Regions from separate parts of the Homo sapiens genome. Here region 1 is linked to region 2. Evidence: fine-mapped expression QTL. Tissue or cell type: T cells. Region 2 holds a variant in brackets; the other region holds the start of a gene. All regions are shown on one strand. Distances are between the middles of the regions. Region 1 holds the start of AKAP6 (A-kinase anchoring protein 6). Region 2 has its middle 21 kb from the start of RNU6-8.

Region 1 (5,389 bases), 100 kb after region 2:
AACCCAAATGCCCATCGATGATAGTCTGGATAAAGAAAATGTTGCACATGTACACCATGGAATACTATGCAGCCATAAAAAAGAATGAAGCTGGAAGCCATCATTCTCATCAGACTAACACAGGAACAGGAAATCAAACACTGCATGTTATCACTCATAAATGGGATTTGAACAATGAGACCACATGGACACAGGGAGGGGAACACCATACACCAGGGCCCTTCGGGGGGTTGTGGGCAAGGTGAGGGAGAGCATTAGGACAAATAGCGAATTCATGCAGGGCTTACAGCCTAGATGATGGGTTGATAGGTGCAGCAAACCACCATGGCACATGTATACCTATGTAACAAACCTGCATGTTCTGCACATGTATCCCAGGACTTAAAGTAATATAAAATAAAAAAAGAAAGTCTGCAATAAAGGAACATGTTTTTAACACTGTCACTTTATCATAAATAATGATATATAATATAATCTTGTTAGAAAATTTATATTTTATTAAATTATAATTTTATCTATAAATGGATAATTTGTTCAGAATAAACTACCCCAAAATCTTGGTGGTGTTTGTTTCTCACTCATTGCAGCCCAGTGTAGGTCAATAGGTAGTTGGGAGAGGATGGTTGAGCTCCATGCAGTCATTCAGGGACCCAGGCTCCATCCACAATGTGTGGCCATTATCTTTCTGGGCTTCAGAGTTCCACTGGATTCTTTGCATCCAGCTAGCAGGACAGGAAAACATGAAGAAGAGACACTTGGTCTTAGCCACCTTTGGAGTTGATGGTTTCCACTTCTACTTCCGTTTCATTGGTGAGTGCCATTTTGTGGGCAAGCAATTTAGCTAGTCCAGGTTGCTAAAAGTTTGACCTGGCCTCAGGTTTGATGAGCCATCCATTTCTTCCCATCAAATGATTGACTTGCTTCTGGCAAAAAAGATTAACAAGATTCTTACCATCTTGAGAAGCCATATTCAAATCTGGAACACCTGCTCCCACCCTGTCCTCTCCTCTTTATAGCATGTGGATTTCAGCTCTGGAAAGACTAATCTTGTTCTGTAATAGGTCCATGTCTCTTTATCTTCTCCAGAGACTGAAGGGTTCTTCAGAGGTATCTTAAAGAGTCAGCTTACAGCAAATGAGGTTGGAGGCAGTGGTTGAGAATGGCTCATCAGTCTGGGCTCTGGGCTTCTTATCTTGCCTCAACCAAGGCAGTCCAGCTTTGATCTGTATCATTAAAAGAAAGGTTATATTACTAATGAAAAACCTGAAAACTATGGTTATTAGCTAAATCAATCATCTCTGCAGATGAAAAACTTGAGGCCCCAAGAAGTTAATCAATTGGCCTGATATCACACAGATGCTCTAGGAGGACCTGACATTTACAGTTGGGTTTCCTGACTCTCAGATCTGTACTCTTTGTACTGGGGTAGCTGCCTGCTACTTCTCCCCTTGTGTGTGGCATGTGGTCTGAGGTCTAAGATAAAGGGAGGGAGTCAGGCTCTGCTGATGCCACAAAGGACCTAAGCAGGCAGATTCACCTCCTGCTTTTGGTCTCTTAATTCCTCTCTAGATGAAGCAAGAACAAGTCTGTCTTCCCATCTAGGGCAGGGTTGCTCTGTGCGAGGCTGATGGTGCACGCTGCTGGGATATTGGCACTTCTCAGGCATTTTATTAGCTCCTGTTTACAGAGACACTGCCTGAATTCCTTCTGCCACTCATCCCACACCGCCTATGCTGGTGGTTAACAGTGCCATTTTAAAATCTCAAGCAGGAGGAGACAACATAATTGTCTCATGTTTTAAGCTTTTGGAATGTTGTTCTTTTTCAGAGTTGTGAAGACGGAGTGGATACAGGTCAACTTGATTCTGCTTTTCTCTATCAATGGCCTGCAAATATTAAATATGCAAAACATAGGCTGCTCTGTCCATATCTCCTTCTCCCCAGTTCTCACCACATGACGTTGATTTCTGCTCAGGACTGGAAAGAAGTGATTGCTTTAGATTTGCTTTTCTTTTACCAACTGGAGAAATGCCTTACCGTGTCTTGTTTAAATGTGGCTTTTCACACAGTTCCAGCTTTTGGGGTTGGGGAGGGGCACAAATAATCTGTGTGGTAGGCAGTTTTATTGTTCAGAAAAGAAGAAAACAGACCCCAATGTTTGGAATGCCAACGATTTAGGAAGTTTCTAGCAGGTCTGCTACTTGTTCCAACCACTAGGTTTGATCCCAGAAAAGACTCACATGCGTTTTGGCCATGAGAAGGAGGGGTTCCCTGCAGGCCAAAGGAAGGGTCAGTAGAAGTTGAGGGTGGTGTGTTGTGCCCCTCTAGATTCCAAACTTCCCTTTGCTGCCTATCTGATGACCAGGTGAAAGCTGGGTTTATTCTGCATGGGAAGGTTCTGTGGGTTGGTGTTCATCAGGGAAAATAACCAGGACAGACTTCATTGGCCAAGGGTTTGCCCATGTTTTGAGAATTAAAACTTGTTTACTTGAGAGTTAGAGTCATTTGGTCAGCTGTTTATATTCCATTTTTAATTATTTTTGTGCTCGCTGTTTTGTTCTTTTGGTCTTTGACAGATGAGCAAAAATTCTTTTTAATAACTTTTAAAAAGCTATCCCAGTGCTGACCAGGGAGGAAAAAGTGATCAAATTGTCTAATAAGGAAACATTGTACATTTCAGTTTTTATTTGCTTAGTACTAATTCTATTTTCTCCTCCCACCTTTTTTTTCTAAATGTATAACAACAAAGGGGGAGATAATTTTTGTTTTTTCCAAAATGCTTTCAGGGAAATCCCTTTTAAACCTATGGATTTTAGTCCAATGAGGAATCCTCTTCCTTTGGTCTAAATTTTGCATATCGTCTGTTTCTTACAGGGCTTCCGTATTGTCTCAGGCTCCACTGGAAATGCAGCAAGGATTCCTAGCACATCCCAGTTGCCATAGCAACAGCAGTCTTTCCCATAATGAGCTGCATCATCTGAACTGATGTCACAGCATCATGCAGCAGGTCAAACAAGGCATCTCCTAGTATTGCATCCTACAGATGTGCTGTAAACATCAAAAGAAGACGGTGGGATCAGGAGATGGTGAGTGTTAAATGTCTGGGCCTTAATTGCACGGCTGTTTTGTTGGTTAGTCGGTGTCTGCTAAGGCGGAGATTGGGGGATGTTGTCTCTGCTTAAAATGGACTGGGGAAAGAAGGGCTGTTTTACCTAAATCGTTTTTCAGGCTGCCGGGTTAAGACAAAGGCCTGTAAGAGTCATATAGGAATTAAAATATGTAGAATTATTCTTGCTCCAGCTCTGTCTGTTATTTTTAAGTGTTCTTACAGAATTTTTCATAAACATAAGATGATTTTTCAATTGCAAAACCCCAGATAAGCTTTAAAATGAGTAGTTAACAGTATTTAAGCATTGTAAAAATATAGATTTCTTTTTGGGAGGCAGAGCTAATTGGCCCCCTCTTTGCTCTTGTGAATTATGAAATATTCAGTGATTTGCAGTATGAAATTCATTATTTACCTCGGTTGGGTTTCAGTTTCTTCATGGCAAGGAACAAATGCTGAATAAGCATTTGACATAACCCTGATGTGAAAGGGGATCTCTTGCATATTCAAGACAGAATTTATTAAAAGCATAAAAACCTAAACCAAATGAAATTATTTGAGCCTTTTGATCTATATGGTAGTTCTTCAACCCATGTCCTTCAGAGTTAGTTGAAAGACTGCCACATATTTTTCCATCTCTAGCTAGTCTCTGAAATAGCTGGAGTTGTTTGCAGGCTGACTTGTAACTGAGAAAGGAACAAGTCTCCTCTCTGCGGCAGTTGCAGTGAAGGGTAACCCTGGGAGAGCCTCTGAAGTGGCAGTGGTGTTGCCATCCCTTGCTTAACTTTAACAAAAATCTGGGTATGATGAATAAATATCAGGGTCCTCAGTGGTTGTAGGGATTACAGACCTCTGGACTCAGTCATAACCTCAACTCAATTCCAAAACTCTAAACACGTATCATTTTCATTTCAACTCCTAGCTCTGTTTTTAGGCATCTTTATTATTATTATTATTTTCTAAAAAATTAGTCTGACAGTGTCAGATAAGGAGCAGAATGTTGCCTTTTGTTTTGGGAAATGAAATGGATTTCCCTGGTACAGCTGATTGCTACTAGGGGAGAGAAAGGAGGAGGCACATGTCAGTTCAATTGATCAATATGTCCACTTAGAATCAGGGAGTGGTCTTGTGGCTTAATGCTGCCAAATTGATAGTTTTTACTCAAAAAGTCTTACACGAAAGAATGGCAACCATTGAATTCCTCTTCTTTTAGTCTGTTTATTGGGGCTAAAGAGATATATCATGGAAAGCAGGAAAAGCAATACCTTTAGCTAGCTTGGAGTGATTTTTTTTTTTTTTTTTTTTTTTTTTTTTTGCACAGAGTTAAGTATGCTAGTCCCATTAGGCACCAGCCAGAGGAAAGGCCTCAGGTTTTAATTTGTTTGTTTATACCACATCACGCACATGCTTGCTACTCTCAGTCCTTTAAGCTTATGTTTCTGACATGCAGCTGTATAGGATGGGAGAGGTCAGCTCAGCCTGGCTTTATCGCAAGCACTTAGAAGCATGAATTGTTCATTGCCTGCTTTTTTATGTCATATAATGTGAGCAGAAAGCTCTGCTGGGACTGCTGGGTGTGAACACATCTAAGTCGAAAGCTCTAAGGTGACAGGGAAGAGTGCTAGATGGTGATGGGGGAAGGGAAAGTATGTCTTGTAGCTAGATTATAAATCTGGATAAAATCACTTAGTGCCTTTTAGAATTTTCTTAAAGTATTATTTCTGAAGAAGAGCAATGAAGAAAGACTTGTTTGGTAACATGAATTTCTAGGAGTAAAAAAAAGCAAAAGGCAGCATTGTAATGAGTTTTCTGTTTGCTTAATTCTTGTCTCTTTTGTTTAAAGTGCTCTTCAGCTGCTTCATCATGGTTGATTTGTTCAATTACTGGAAGTCACAAAAGCTAGATTCCTTAAGGGCAGTGTTAGAAAAAGTGGAGTCATGCTTTGAGGGTGGGGAAGGGCGCTGGTGGGTGTGGACTGACGCAGTTATCTAGTGGAACATCCTCCCGGTTCAGACAACCCTGTAATTTTTCCCCCCGCAAATGTTCAAAATGCAATTACAGTTCTCCAACTTTATGCTTTTGTGCTCTTTTTGCTCCAGGAGAACAAAGCCCTGGTAATGAGAGCTATCATCCTAATGTTTTGTTTCTTCGTTTCTTTGTAGAGGGCCACAGCCTGCGCTGCTCTCTGATTAGCTGCATGTCTTAATTACTGGCTAAGGCTATTTCAGTTGTCTTAGTTTTAATATATCCCCAAGGGGTAGATGGTGTGTGTGTGTGTATAGGG
Region 2 (5,389 bases):
GGGTATGAGATTGAGGGACCACAAGGAATCTACCTTATATAACTGGGGTGGGGGAAGGATGAGTCAGCCTAGCAAGACTAATGTTTAGAGTTGTGAGGGCTTTTGATGAACTTATCTTTTGGGAAGCATTTTATTTGGCTAAAAGGATTTTACCAGCAGGGTGAGGGATGGGGGAAAACACTGATGTTTGGAGTGGGACAATGTTTGAATGGGAAGCTGTTTTCAGCTAGTCACAGAGCAAATGCTGTAGTCTATATATGCCTCCCATGATTACCATAAAGAAAATATCAAACATGGGCTGTCGAATACAGGAGAGCAGTGGTGGATACAATTCCTGGAGAATTAGATGGGCATGGGCCCTGACATTATGGAATTTACCAAATTACCTGTAAAATAGAATCTCAGGTATCTGTTTCCACTTAGACTACAGAAATCAAATGTAGAGATGTGAATGCTATTGGTACTGTGGGGGAGATGGAGAAATTATGCATAAGAACTAGGGAGCAAAGAGTGTGTTCTTATGACCGCCACGTTTAGAGAGCAGAAAGGGGAAGTTTGTAGGTAGATTACAGGTTCTGTAATGAGGATGGAATTCGAGTCCCACCAGAAAGTAAAGTTTTCATGAATGTGCCATTTGAGATGTTGAAAACCTAGAGTCTGGAAGAACTTTCGCACACTGTGTTCGTGTTTTATTCTATATCTGTTCCCATTCGTTTCTACTTTTCTATCTATATAAGCCTCAATTCCTTCTTTCCTACCCCTACCATTTTACCACCTACTCACAGTAATCCTTCCTCATCATCATCAAAAGAAATTCTGCAATCTACCTCTTCTAAGGTAACTTTCCCATCCACTGGAAAAAAAAAATGAGTTCTTGTAATGCAGGCTTTGTGTGCTTTAAATACATCATCTTATTTCACAGTCCCCACAATTCCAAGAAATAGTACTATGAAGGATCTTTCAGGAAATCTCCAAGTGATGTTTAAAATCAGGTGTTTAAAGCCAGGCCCCCCTGGGGGGCCTGACTATATAAAAGTGTTTCCACCTCACAGGAACAGAGGCTACTAGCAAATCATGACCACCATTTTAAACCAGGTTGACAAAGGTCACTGCAGAAAATCCTGGAAGATCCACTCTCACTAATGGAAAATGAATAACTTTTAGGCTTTGCTTAGGCTCTTTTAAATAAACGCATCTAAGAGTCAGGTTTGAATCAATGGGTGTAAGTAGTAAGTCAGGGAATGTTGGCACCTTTCTAGGTAAGTAGAATGAAGTAATATTCTTTGCTGAGGAGGAGAGGGGTTGAAATTGCTGTATTGTTGAATCCATTGAACATATATTGGAAGACATGGAAGACTGACCAATTTATTTCATAGTAGTGGACCTGAGCTGGCTAATTTGCAGTAAACTTTGTTATTCAGACACTATTTTCTAGCTCAAGACAGATGGAATCTTTGATCTGAAATATTTTGCTGTGCTCAGAGAGCCCATAGCCAAGGTATAGCCAGGCATGGTGAGTTTTCATTTACTAGAAGTCACTCTGATGGAATTGTGTAATCCAAAGCATCAGATTCAGGGAAAGATGGGGGCATTGAGAGAGCATAGAGATCCCAGGGGCTATTTTTATTTTTTTTTATTTTATTTTTTTTTCCCAGGGGCTATTTTTATATGTCTTTGGAGACAGAGTCTCACTTTGTTGCCCAGGCTGGTTGGAGTGCAGTGGTGCGATCTTGGCTCACTACAACCTCTGACTCCCAGGCTCAGGGAATCCTTCCCACCTCAGCCTCCCGAGTACCTGGGACTACAGACACATACCACCATGCCTGGCTGATTTTTGTATTTTTTGTAGAGCCAGGGTTTTGCCATGTTGCCCAGGCTGGTCTCAAACTCCTAGGCTTAAGCCATCTGCCTGCCTCAGCCTCCCAAAGTGCTGGGATTACAGTTATGAGCCTCCATGCCCCTCCATGGGCTATTTTTCAGAGTGTTAGAAGATGACTAGTAGCATGTGGGCATAGGGAATGGGAGCGAACCATCTTCTCTAAAAGGCTGATGGGAGAAATTAGTTCTTACTGACCAAATGATCAAGTCAGAGACTCATAGAGCTTCAGTGATGGATGGAGCTTTAGCAAACAACTCCCTAATTGTGCAGATGAGAAACTGAGGCTCCAAGAGATTTGTCCAAGGCCACTTGGGAATAGACAGAGTAGAATTCCAAACCATATCTTCAGAGTCTAACTTTATGCCATACTATGTGAAATTGCGTTTATTTTTTCAAGGTTTCTAGTTCAGTCCTGCATTTGATATGGCCAAATGAGTCTTGTG[C/T]TTTGTTTTCTTAAGAAAGAAAATATTATTTTCTTGTTAGCAGTCATACCAGAAGCTCACAAGTGGTTTACACACCAGATAATAAACTCCTATTCGTGGTCTGAGAGAAAGGTTGAAAAAAATTTATGTAAAATATAAAAGGTAAAAAACATAAATATCCCAACCCATTAGTGGATCCAGTTCTTATTAACATTCCTTTTTCCTGCTACATCTCTTTATTTTTATGATGTCTTTGGGCTTCCCAGAGTGAACGATGATTTGTCTTGAACAAAATAGAATTGTTCTTGAATCCTGCTGGTGTAAACGGTAATCTAAATAAATGGAAATAGATATAAGTCCCAGGAGTAAATCAGACTGCTTGCTTAAAAAAGCAAGCACATAAGTCAATATTTTTTTTCTGATAGTAAGAAAAATTCACAGAGCTGAAACTCTATCTCCTTACCCACATGTAGACCTTACTCAAGCTATTTTTTCATTTATTTATTTGTAGAAAGATAGGTTTTCTCTTTTCTTCCTTCTCTTTATTATCACTAATTTTTGGGAGAGGTCTTTGGTAAGTTGAAAACTGACACACTTTTGCACATGAAAGGGGGCATTACTGATTATGCTGCTACAAAGTTATGGGACTGTCAGATCAGAACATTTAGTCACAGACTATACCTATACATCCTCCCGGACCTCATGGACATAACTGAGAGGTTAGGCCTTTGCTCATTCAAAAACAGTTATTCAAGCACAGATGCATCTGCCACTGCATTAGGCACTGAGAATGTAAAGCCGACAGCTTCTATGTTAGTACCATATGAGCTATTCTTTCTTCAGCCTAGACTTTCATAACATGGAAAAGTAAGGCAAAACCTTCAGAGCCGAGTCCACCAGTTATGATTCTGCTTAGCAGGGCTTGTGCATATATGGCTTCCACCTGGTCTTGCCCCCCTGGTGGTGGCTGCACACGCTGAAGCATGATGAGTCAGAGCCGTGTGATTTTGTTCTGCCTCTGCCCTGCATAGGCTGGTTTTAATCAAACGAAAGCCTAATCCTGTAGTGAATCTTATTAAGCCCTTTGCCCTTCCCCATTCCATCTGTTACATGTCTCAATTTCTGTCCCCCAAATGGAATAAGCTGTGTTTTTTTTCTCAGATTTTTTTTTTTCTTTTTGTGTTTGATGTCTTTCAGAGATAGGCCTGGAGTCAACAATTACAATCAAGCTGAATTGAGTCTGGCAGAGGATTTTCAGTATCCCAAGTTACTTTCAATGCTCCACTTGTCTTATCAGCAAAGCCTCTTATTTTCAAATCTAGTATACTGGGAAGCTCTGCAGTTGGTTTCACAGGCTTTCCTGCCAGGACCACAATTACTGTCTCCCCAGGGTTTAAATACTGACAGAGCCTTGGGGCATGCAGTTATGGTGCCATTTTCTTGGATCAATAGGTATATGTCCTTCCTAGCCCTGCTATAGAACTCAGGTAACTGCTGGCAGGTGGATCACAGTCTTGCCTTAGTGGGTCTTTCTTATCTTTTTGATCTATTGCCTAGTTTGTCTTACTAACCGTATCATTCACACACATCATAACCAACTTAATTTGAAAATAGGCCTCCAGGTCTCTGTCCAGGGAATAGCAAAAGAGTACAGACAAATCTTCCCCAAGGCACATATTTCTGTTTATTGTAGTTTCTCTTCTTGACAGGTAAGAAGAGATAAGGTTTTACTCTAGAGGAATGAAAAATACATAAAAGGTGTTGATGATATGGCAAGTTCCAAATTTGGTTCTCTTTCAGCAATCACAGCCCCTGACATCTGGACTCTCTTCCTCTCTTGTTTTCTATTGGTGTTAATGCCTGTTTCTTTCCTTTGTAAGGTTCCTTGAGGGGAGTGTTCTTGTGTCTCTGTCATCTTTAAAGCTCTTCCTCATGCTGGTGCTAAGTACATTGTTTTCCACAGATAAGATAATTGAATGTTTCTAAACTCAGTACATATCTTTGGTCTGTAAATCAGTAGTTCCTTTATTTGATGCTTCCTTATACTGAAAGACTCACTGAAAGGTTCTTAGATGGAATGCAGTATAACCACTTGAGTGTTAACCACTCAAATGTCCTTTGAGCAATAAGGCCTTGCCAGAAAGTCTGGAAAATATGAAAGTCACTCCATGTGCAGTTCTGTGGGGTTTTTCTGTTACCCTCGGAGCAGAATCTTCAGTCCTCTAAAGATGCAGGTAAAACATGGAATTGGTGCCACATCTAATCTTTTCACTGTCATGCTTACTGCTGTTGCTAATATATACACACAACCCCACTTTGCAATGGATGGTAGGAAAGGTATCTTAGACCCAGGAACACTCAGCCAAACTGGGGCCTGGGACCTGCCTTAACAGGAGCATCTGACAACCTGGGTTGTTGGCTCCCAAATCAAATTAGGCTAGTATGTGTCCCATCGTGAACTGGATGGGGATCAATCAGGACTAACAAAAAGCAAAGAAAATAAGACGTAGGACAATTTGCCACTTGATTCTACATTCTATTCCTAATAAGTTAGTGTTTCAACCCAGCTGTAGCTTGCTTTCTACCCTATTTGACACTTTCATATTGTTTCTCTCTATTAATAGTCATTGGGCTTCTTGTCAGCTTGGGATTATTATGTTTCATTACTGTTTCTGGATAAAACTCCGGTTGCTGGGAATTCTATTTGTGTTGTGTTTGAGAGCAATACAAATTTCTGCTTCACTGATGGAGATGGTGAGAGATGGGCCATTATGAACAAATGAAGATAGTGCAGCATTAGGGAACTTCAAATGAGTTTCCAAGTACATAAGATATATGCAAAAATGTATTATAGCCACTTTCTCTATTTGGAAAGTCAACTCCCTCTTTTTTAGGTCTGGGTGTTAAGAAACTTGAGATAGTATTTCATGTATTTATGTAGTGAAAGCCATGAATTTGGTGGGCAAAGAGGTGTCATAAAGGACCAAGTCTGCATGGACATGCAGTGTCCCTGCACAAAGCCCATCTCTAGTCACCCAAGTATGTGCCCCTTCCCTCAGTCAGTCAGGAGGAAGGGGAGACTTTTTGT

Evidence for each region. PIP is the estimated chance that this variant, and not a neighbour inherited with it, causes the effect.
Region 1: it holds the start of AKAP6, and the variant in region 2 is the best candidate, but not a certain one, in a credible set for the expression of AKAP6 in T cells (TOPMed, PIP 0.65).

The regions. Positions count from the first base shown.
Region 1 is chr14:32,326,324-32,331,712 of GRCh38, forward strand. AKAP6 (A-kinase anchoring protein 6) reads left to right here and starts at 2,975. Exons shown (of 14, transcript NM_004274.5): 1 at 2,975-3,085. RefSeq lists an enhancer at 4,940-5,234.
Region 2 is chr14:32,221,895-32,227,283 of GRCh38, forward strand. No RefSeq gene overlaps it. Among named protein-coding and RNA genes, the nearest start is that of RNU6-8, 21 kb to the left of the region's middle. The variant C/T (reference allele first, on the strand shown) is at 2,323.